Homo sapiens: one gene and its partner. The protein of the gene in region 1 purifies or fractionates together with the protein of each later gene. This does not show direct contact. Each region holds a gene or a part of one and is shown on either strand. Other genes may lie near its edges.

What was found. The genes of interacting proteins can lie anywhere in the genome.
Region 2: the proteins of NEDD9 (region 1) and KLHL18 purify together in Homo sapiens (affinity purification with mass spectrometry; one large-scale study listed by BioGRID and IntAct). This does not show direct contact.

The regions. Positions count from the first base shown.
Region 1 is NC_000006.12:11,187,669-11,191,168, reverse strand, and holds part of NEDD9 (enhancer of filamentation 1), read left to right. Parts: coding exon 1-1,205; intron 1,206-2,861; coding exon 2,862-2,951; intron 2,952-3,500. UniProt on the Homo sapiens protein: Scaffolding protein which plays a central coordinating role for tyrosine-kinase-based signaling related to cell adhesion. As a focal adhesion protein, plays a role in embryonic fibroblast migration.
Region 2 is NC_000003.12:47,327,944-47,331,443, forward strand, and holds part of KLHL18 (kelch-like protein 18), read left to right. Parts: intron 1-2,007; coding exon 2,008-2,206; intron 2,207-3,500. UniProt on the Homo sapiens protein: Substrate-specific adapter of a BCR (BTB-CUL3-RBX1) E3 ubiquitin-protein ligase complex required for mitotic progression and cytokinesis.

The DNA of each region.
Region 1 (3,500 bases):
CAGGGCTTAGGGAAAAAGACTATGACTTCCCCCCTCCCATGAGACAAGCTGGAAGGCCGGACCTCAGACCGGAGGGGGTTTATGACATTCCTCCAACCTGCACCAAGCCAGCAGGGAAGGACCTTCATGTAAAATACAACTGTGACATTCCAGGAGCTGCAGAACCGGTGGCTCGAAGGCACCAGAGCCTGTCCCCGAATCACCCACCCCCGCAACTCGGACAGTCAGTGGGCTCTCAGAACGACGCATATGATGTCCCCCGAGGCGTTCAGTTTCTTGAGCCACCAGCAGAAACCAGTGAGAAAGCAAACCCCCAGGAAAGGGATGGTGTTTATGATGTCCCTCTGCATAACCCGCCAGATGCTAAAGGCTCTCGGGACTTGGTGGATGGGATCAACCGATTGTCTTTCTCCAGTACAGGCAGCACCCGGAGTAACATGTCCACGTCTTCCACCTCCTCCAAGGAGTCCTCACTGTCAGCCTCCCCAGCTCAGGACAAAAGGCTCTTCCTGGATCCAGACACAGCTATTGAGAGACTTCAGCGGCTCCAGCAGGCCCTTGAGATGGGTGTCTCCAGCCTAATGGCACTGGTCACTACCGACTGGCGGTGTTACGGATATATGGAAAGACACATCAATGAAATACGCACAGCAGTGGACAAGGTGGAGCTGTTCCTGAAGGAGTACCTCCACTTTGTCAAGGGAGCTGTTGCAAATGCTGCCTGCCTCCCGGAACTCATCCTCCACAACAAGATGAAGCGGGAGCTGCAACGAGTTGAAGACTCCCACCAGATCCTGAGTCAAACCAGCCATGACTTAAATGAGTGCAGCTGGTCCCTGAATATCTTGGCCATCAACAAGCCCCAGAACAAGTGTGACGATCTGGACCGGTTTGTGATGGTGGCAAAGACGGTGCCCGATGACGCCAAGCAGCTCACCACAACCATCAACACCAACGCAGAGGCCCTCTTCAGACCCGGCCCTGGCAGCTTGCATCTGAAGAATGGGCCGGAGAGCATCATGAACTCAACGGAGTACCCACACGGTGGCTCCCAGGGACAGCTGCTGCATCCTGGTGACCACAAGGCCCAGGCCCACAACAAGGCACTGCCCCCAGGCCTGAGCAAGGAGCAGGCCCCTGACTGTAGCAGCAGTGATGGTTCTGAGAGGAGCTGGATGGATGACTACGATTACGTCCACCTACAGGTAAAACAGCGGAACTCATAAAACACCTACACTCACTCACATGCAGGGAGCCTGAGAAAGATGCCTATAAGGATGTCGGGTTGGACTGCCAAAGGAGAGAACATAATTAATGTTAATCTACATGGTTCACAAATTGGAGGGAGTGTCGTAGAGTAGTAAGAACGCTGGGCTGAGAGTCCTGAGTACTCACTCAGATCTAGCCCTTTCTCTGACGTTTACTGTGTGACCAACTTATTCAACCTCCTTGGGCCTTAATTTCCTCATTTGCAAAATGAATGGGGTAAGGGGTTGGATTAGATCCCGTTGATATACCTCAGGTAAGAGGAGACTCACCAAGTAGGATAATAGGCCCTCTAATAATAATACCAGCTCCACTTCTATTTGTGTTTTATGTATAGTTCCATGCAATATTTTATTTGAAAAAAAAGTTTTCGTCATTAAGAAAAAGAATAGAAGACCTTTGCACCAGAGAATTTCTAAGGCCCCTGCTAGCCCTACTCTGTGTATGTGTGTGTATAATTGCTTTAAAACTTAGCCCCATCTCAGACTTACCTAGAGGACCACTGGGCATTAGCTAGCTGTCCTAGGAGCTTAATCTGTGTATGGGACATTGGATAGTCACAGTTGGCCTCCTACAATTGGGAATTCTACCAAGCTCCAAGTTGACCTGGGATTCCGACAGCTTTCCCTTCCACTTTGAGGGATTAAAACATTCTACTGGCTGGGCGCAGTGGCTCACGCCTGTAATCCCAGCACTTTGGGAGGCTGAAGCAGGTGGATCACAAGGTCAGGAGTTCAAGACCAGCCTGGCCAATATGGTGAAACCCCATCTCTACTAAAAGTACGAAAATTAGCCAGGCATGGTGATGCACGCCTGTAGTCCCAGCTACTTGGGAGGCCGAGGCAGAAGAATCACTTGAACCTGGGAGGCGGAGGTTGCAGTGAGCTAAGATCGTGCCACTGGACTCCAGCCTGGGCGACAGAGCGAGACTCTGTCTCAGAAAAAAAAAAAAAAATCTACCAAGATCCATTGTTTAGGACTAGGCTTACTATCTTATTCTGCCATTCTTTTAATTTGACTGAGAGTCACAGATTATACTGAGAACTACGTAACTATTATGCCAAATTCCCTCAAGCGCAAGAAAGTGTGGCAAGGAGAACTGAGCCCCACCTGATGCTGAGGAAGGAAGTGGAGAGAGAGAGGATGGAGGCATTGAACATTCATCTTACTGGTTGTCTGACCCTGCACAGTGGGAACTACTGCCTTGGAGCAGAAATCTATAGATGATTTGAGGGAACTAGAAGTGAGAGGTGGACCACATTTAGACCTGCATTTGGGGGTTTACAGGTTCACATATAATCTATGAGAAAAGAACCCAGAGACTATAAAAAGAACATTATATATGAGATTTGAAGGGAATCATGAGTAGCTCTCCGAAAATTTTAAGGTGCCCCAGAAAGCTGGCACCCTATATGGCAATGGGCTTTATTTTTCTGCCACCCCTGTCGTCTAGGGTTCACAGTGCCTCACTGGGCATTTGAGATGTTGCCAAGGCAGTGGAAAATAAAGAGTATTTACTCATCCGTCAATGAAATTGTTAGCATAAGTGAATCACAGTGATGACATAATATGTTCTTTATGTTGAAAATTAACAGGGTAAGGAGGAGTTTGAGAGGCAACAGAAAGAGCTATTGGAAAAAGAGAATATCATGAAACAGAACAAGATGCAGCTGGAACATCATCAGGTAAGTTCAATCAGAGCAAAAACTGCTTGGCATTGGAAAGATTTCCCACCTAGCACTAAGGAAAGGTATCACTTCAAGAGATTATGATTTTGATTCTTCCAGCTCACTGGCAGGAATCAGCTCCAAAGCACGGAATGGGGTTTAAAAGCAAAGAGAAGGTTTATGACCTTGTTAGTTCAACTGGGTGTACCTGGGTTCCATCTAAACGGCAATTTTTTTAAAGGCTAAACCTGCATATCTAACATATGAGGACTATTTGGGTTAAGGCATTTGGTCTCAAGAAACAAGACCCATTCAAGCTAGCCTAAGCAAGCAGGTTTATAGTAAAGCCACAGTAGGGGAATTCAGTAACAGAAAGTGAAGATAGAGCCAGGTCTGGGGAGAACTAGAACTGTAAATTATCTCTCCTTCTTGTAGTTCCTTTGCTTCTTTCTATCAGTCTACTTCACTCTCACCTATTTTCTGGTTTTCTCTAATTATCTACTCATTTGGCTCCCCTGTAACTTTGCAGAACCCATAAATGGCCACTCAGAACTTCTATAGATGGCT
Region 2 (3,500 bases), on another chromosome or scaffold:
CTGATCAATACCATCCCTACAGAGAATCAGTCATGGAGCCAAATAAGAATCCCCCAGGGTCTGCTGCTGTCACCAAGATTTTAGAATCGCACTGGGCTCGTTTGGAATTTTCTTAGATGCAACAGTAGTAAGAAAAACAAGCTGGGCACAGTGGCTCATGCCTGTAATCCCAGCACTTTGGGAGGCCAAGGCAGGAGGATTGCTCGAGCCTAGGAGTTTGAGACCAGTCTGGGCAACATAGGGAGATGCTTTCTCTACCAAAAAACACTTTTTTTTTTTTTTTTTAATTAGCTAGGTGTGTGGTTTCAGCTACTTGGCAGGTTGAGGTAGGAGGATCACTTGAGCTCAAGAGGTCAAGGCTATCATGAGCCATAATTGCACCACTACACTACAGCCTAGGTGACAGAATAAGACCTTGTCTCAAAAAACAAAAACAACCATAATAAAAAATTAAGACAGCCATTAACTTCATACCAGGTACCATGTATCATGGCTCAGCCCTAAGAGGTGGGTAGCTGTTGTCATCATCTTCTTTCAGGTGAGCAAATTACTGACACTTGGAAGAACATAACCCACCCAAGTTGCCCCATGAGCATCAGGGCCAGGATTTATCCTGGGTTTCTCTAGCCCTGATGAGTGTAAGTCTGCCAGGCTACCGTGGGAATGTGCACAAGAGTCCTGATTTCAATCTCAGCACCACCACTTGCTTATCTCAAGGGACTGTGAGCACCATTTTTGGTTTCCCTGAGCCTGTTTTCCATCTGTGAGTGCGTTACTACTTTACAGGTTAAGAAGATTCTGGAGAATGTGTATAAAAGGCCTAGCAAAACACTTGACTCACTGATGGTAAATAAATGATAGCTGCTGCTGTTGTTTCTGCTTGTCTGAACAATTAGGCCCGTGGAGTCTCTTTCTATCTAAAACAAGAAAAAATCTCAGCATTTTGGGAGGCCGAGGCAGGTGGGTTGCTGGAGTTCAGGAGTTCAAACCTGCCTGGACAACATGGTGAATCCCTGTCTCTACCACAAAAAGTACAAAAATTAGCCAGGCATGGTGGCACCTGTAGTCCCAGCTACTTGCAGGGCTGAGGCAGGAGGATCGCTTGAGCCCAGGAAGTCAAGGGTGATGTGAGCCGTGTTCACGCTACTGCACTCCAGCCTGGGGGACAAAGTGAGACCCTGTCTCAAAAAAGAAAAAAAAGGAAAAAAAAAGACAAGTATAAGAGTTCCCATACTAAAGAAGCCATCTGTCCGTGTTGTGTTTTTTTTGTTGTTGTTTTGTTTGTTTTTTGTTTTTTGTTTTGAGACGGAGTCTTGCTCTGTCGCCCAGGCTGGAGTGCAGTGGCGCAGTCTCGGCTCACTGCAAGCTCCGCCTCCTGGGTTCACAGCATTCTCCTGCCTCAGCCTCCCAAGTAGCTGGGACTACAGGCGCCCGCCACCACACCCGGCTAATTTTTTGTATTTTTAGTAGAGACGGGGTTTCACCGTGTCAGCCAGGATGGTCTTGATCTCGTGACCTCGTGATCTGCCTGCCTCAGCCTCCCAAAGTGCTGGGATTACAGGCGTGAGCCACCGTGTCCAGCCCTGTCTGTGTTTTTTAAACTCTAATTCTGTGACTTCAGTGCCTTCCTTGTGACCAAAGTTGAGATAATGCCCTGGACACTCAACCAGGAATTTCAGTGGTGGAACGTCTCAAACAGATTTTCAGTGCCTGCACTCCTGTGATGGTTACTTCTCACCTTCTGACAGTTACTTTACAGAACTACCCAGAGAGCTCATTCCACCTGACGCACAGAGCACCAGGCCCAAAAGGCAGGGACCTTTGAGGATAATCTTTCTTCTTAATTTTATACCTTTAGAAGTTGAGTCCCAGAGAAATACAGTTTCCAACAAAGCTGAGGTTAAGAATTTGTTTTCATTCTGTGGCTCTACCCAGAACCAGCCTGAGAATGATCAAAGATAACATCCTTTCTTCCTCTAATTTTTTTTTTCTTTCCTTATGCCAAAGGCTTCACCCAAAAAACTGCCTGGGTGTGCGCCAGTTTGCTGAGACAATGATGTGTGCTGTGCTGTACGACGCTGCCAACAGCTTCATCCACCAGCACTTTGTGGAGGTGTCCATGTCAGAAGAGTTCCTGGCCCTGCCCTTGGAAGACGTGCTTGAGCTGGTGTCTCGGGATGAGCTGAATGTCAAATCTGAGGAGCAGGTATGTGAGCCCAGTAGCAGTCTGTGCAGGTGACATGAGATGCTGCTCTTTATAGTCATTGTTTTGTTTATGTATTTTTTTACAAAGTTAAGATCATGACATGTATGTGGCTGTTGTATATTATTGGGCTTGTTTTACTGTATCATGCATTTTTCATGAAAACTTTCTATGTTTTATTTATTTTTTTGAGATAATATCTTGCTCTGTCACCTAGGCTGGAGTGCAGTAGCAAGATCATAGCTTACTGCAGCCTCATCCTCCCACATCAGCCTCCCGAGTAGCTGGAACTACAGGCACATACCACCACACCCAGCTAGTTTTTGTATTTTTTGTAGAGACCGGGTTTCACCATGTTGCCCAGGCTAGTCTTGAACTACTGTCCTTAAGTGAGTTCAGCCTCCCAAAGTGCTGGGATTATAGGCGTGAGCCACCGCACCTGGCCTCCATACATTTTAGTGTCTAAATAGCATTCTGTTGATTTTTGTCAACCTACTCACCTTATTCTTGCATGTTTGGGTTATTTCCAATATTTACTATTAGAAATAATCCTCCTGTGAACCAGAAACAGCAAGCATAGATAATTTTTTTGTTGTTTTTTTGAGTCAGAGTCTCATTCTGTCACCCAAGCTGGAGTGCAGTGGTGCGATCTTGGCTCACTGCAACCTCCATCTCCCAGGTTCAAGCAATTCTCCCGCATCAACCTCCTTGAGTAGCTGGGATTACAGGCATGCACCACCATGCCAGGCTAATTTTTATACTTTCAGTAGAGACGGGGTTTCACCATGTTGGCGAGGCTGGTCTCGAATTCCTGACCTCAAGTGACCCGCCCATCTTGGCCTCCCAAAGTGCTGGGTTTACAGGCGTGAGCCACTGTGCCCGGCCTAGTATAGATAACTTTTTGAAAGAATCTTGTTCTAAGGAAGAACAGAACATTGGGGCAGCTGTGGGAGGGGTCTGTGAAATCAAGAGGGGTTGTTGTTTGTTTGTTTTTGAGAAAGAATCTTGCTCCAACGCCCAGGCAGGCTGGAGTGCAGTGGCAACAATCTCAGCTCACTGCACCTCTGCCTCCCGGGTTCAAGCAATTCTCCTGCTTCAGCCTCCCAAGTAGCTGGGATTACAGGTGCCCGCTACCATGCCTGGCTAATTTTTATATTTTTAGTAGAGATGGGGTTTCACCACGTTGGCCAGGCTGGTCTTGAACTCTGGCCTCACATGATCCTCTCACCTTGGCCTCCCAAAGTGCTGGGATTATAAGCATGAGCCATCATGCCAGGCCTTTTTTTTTTTTTTTTTT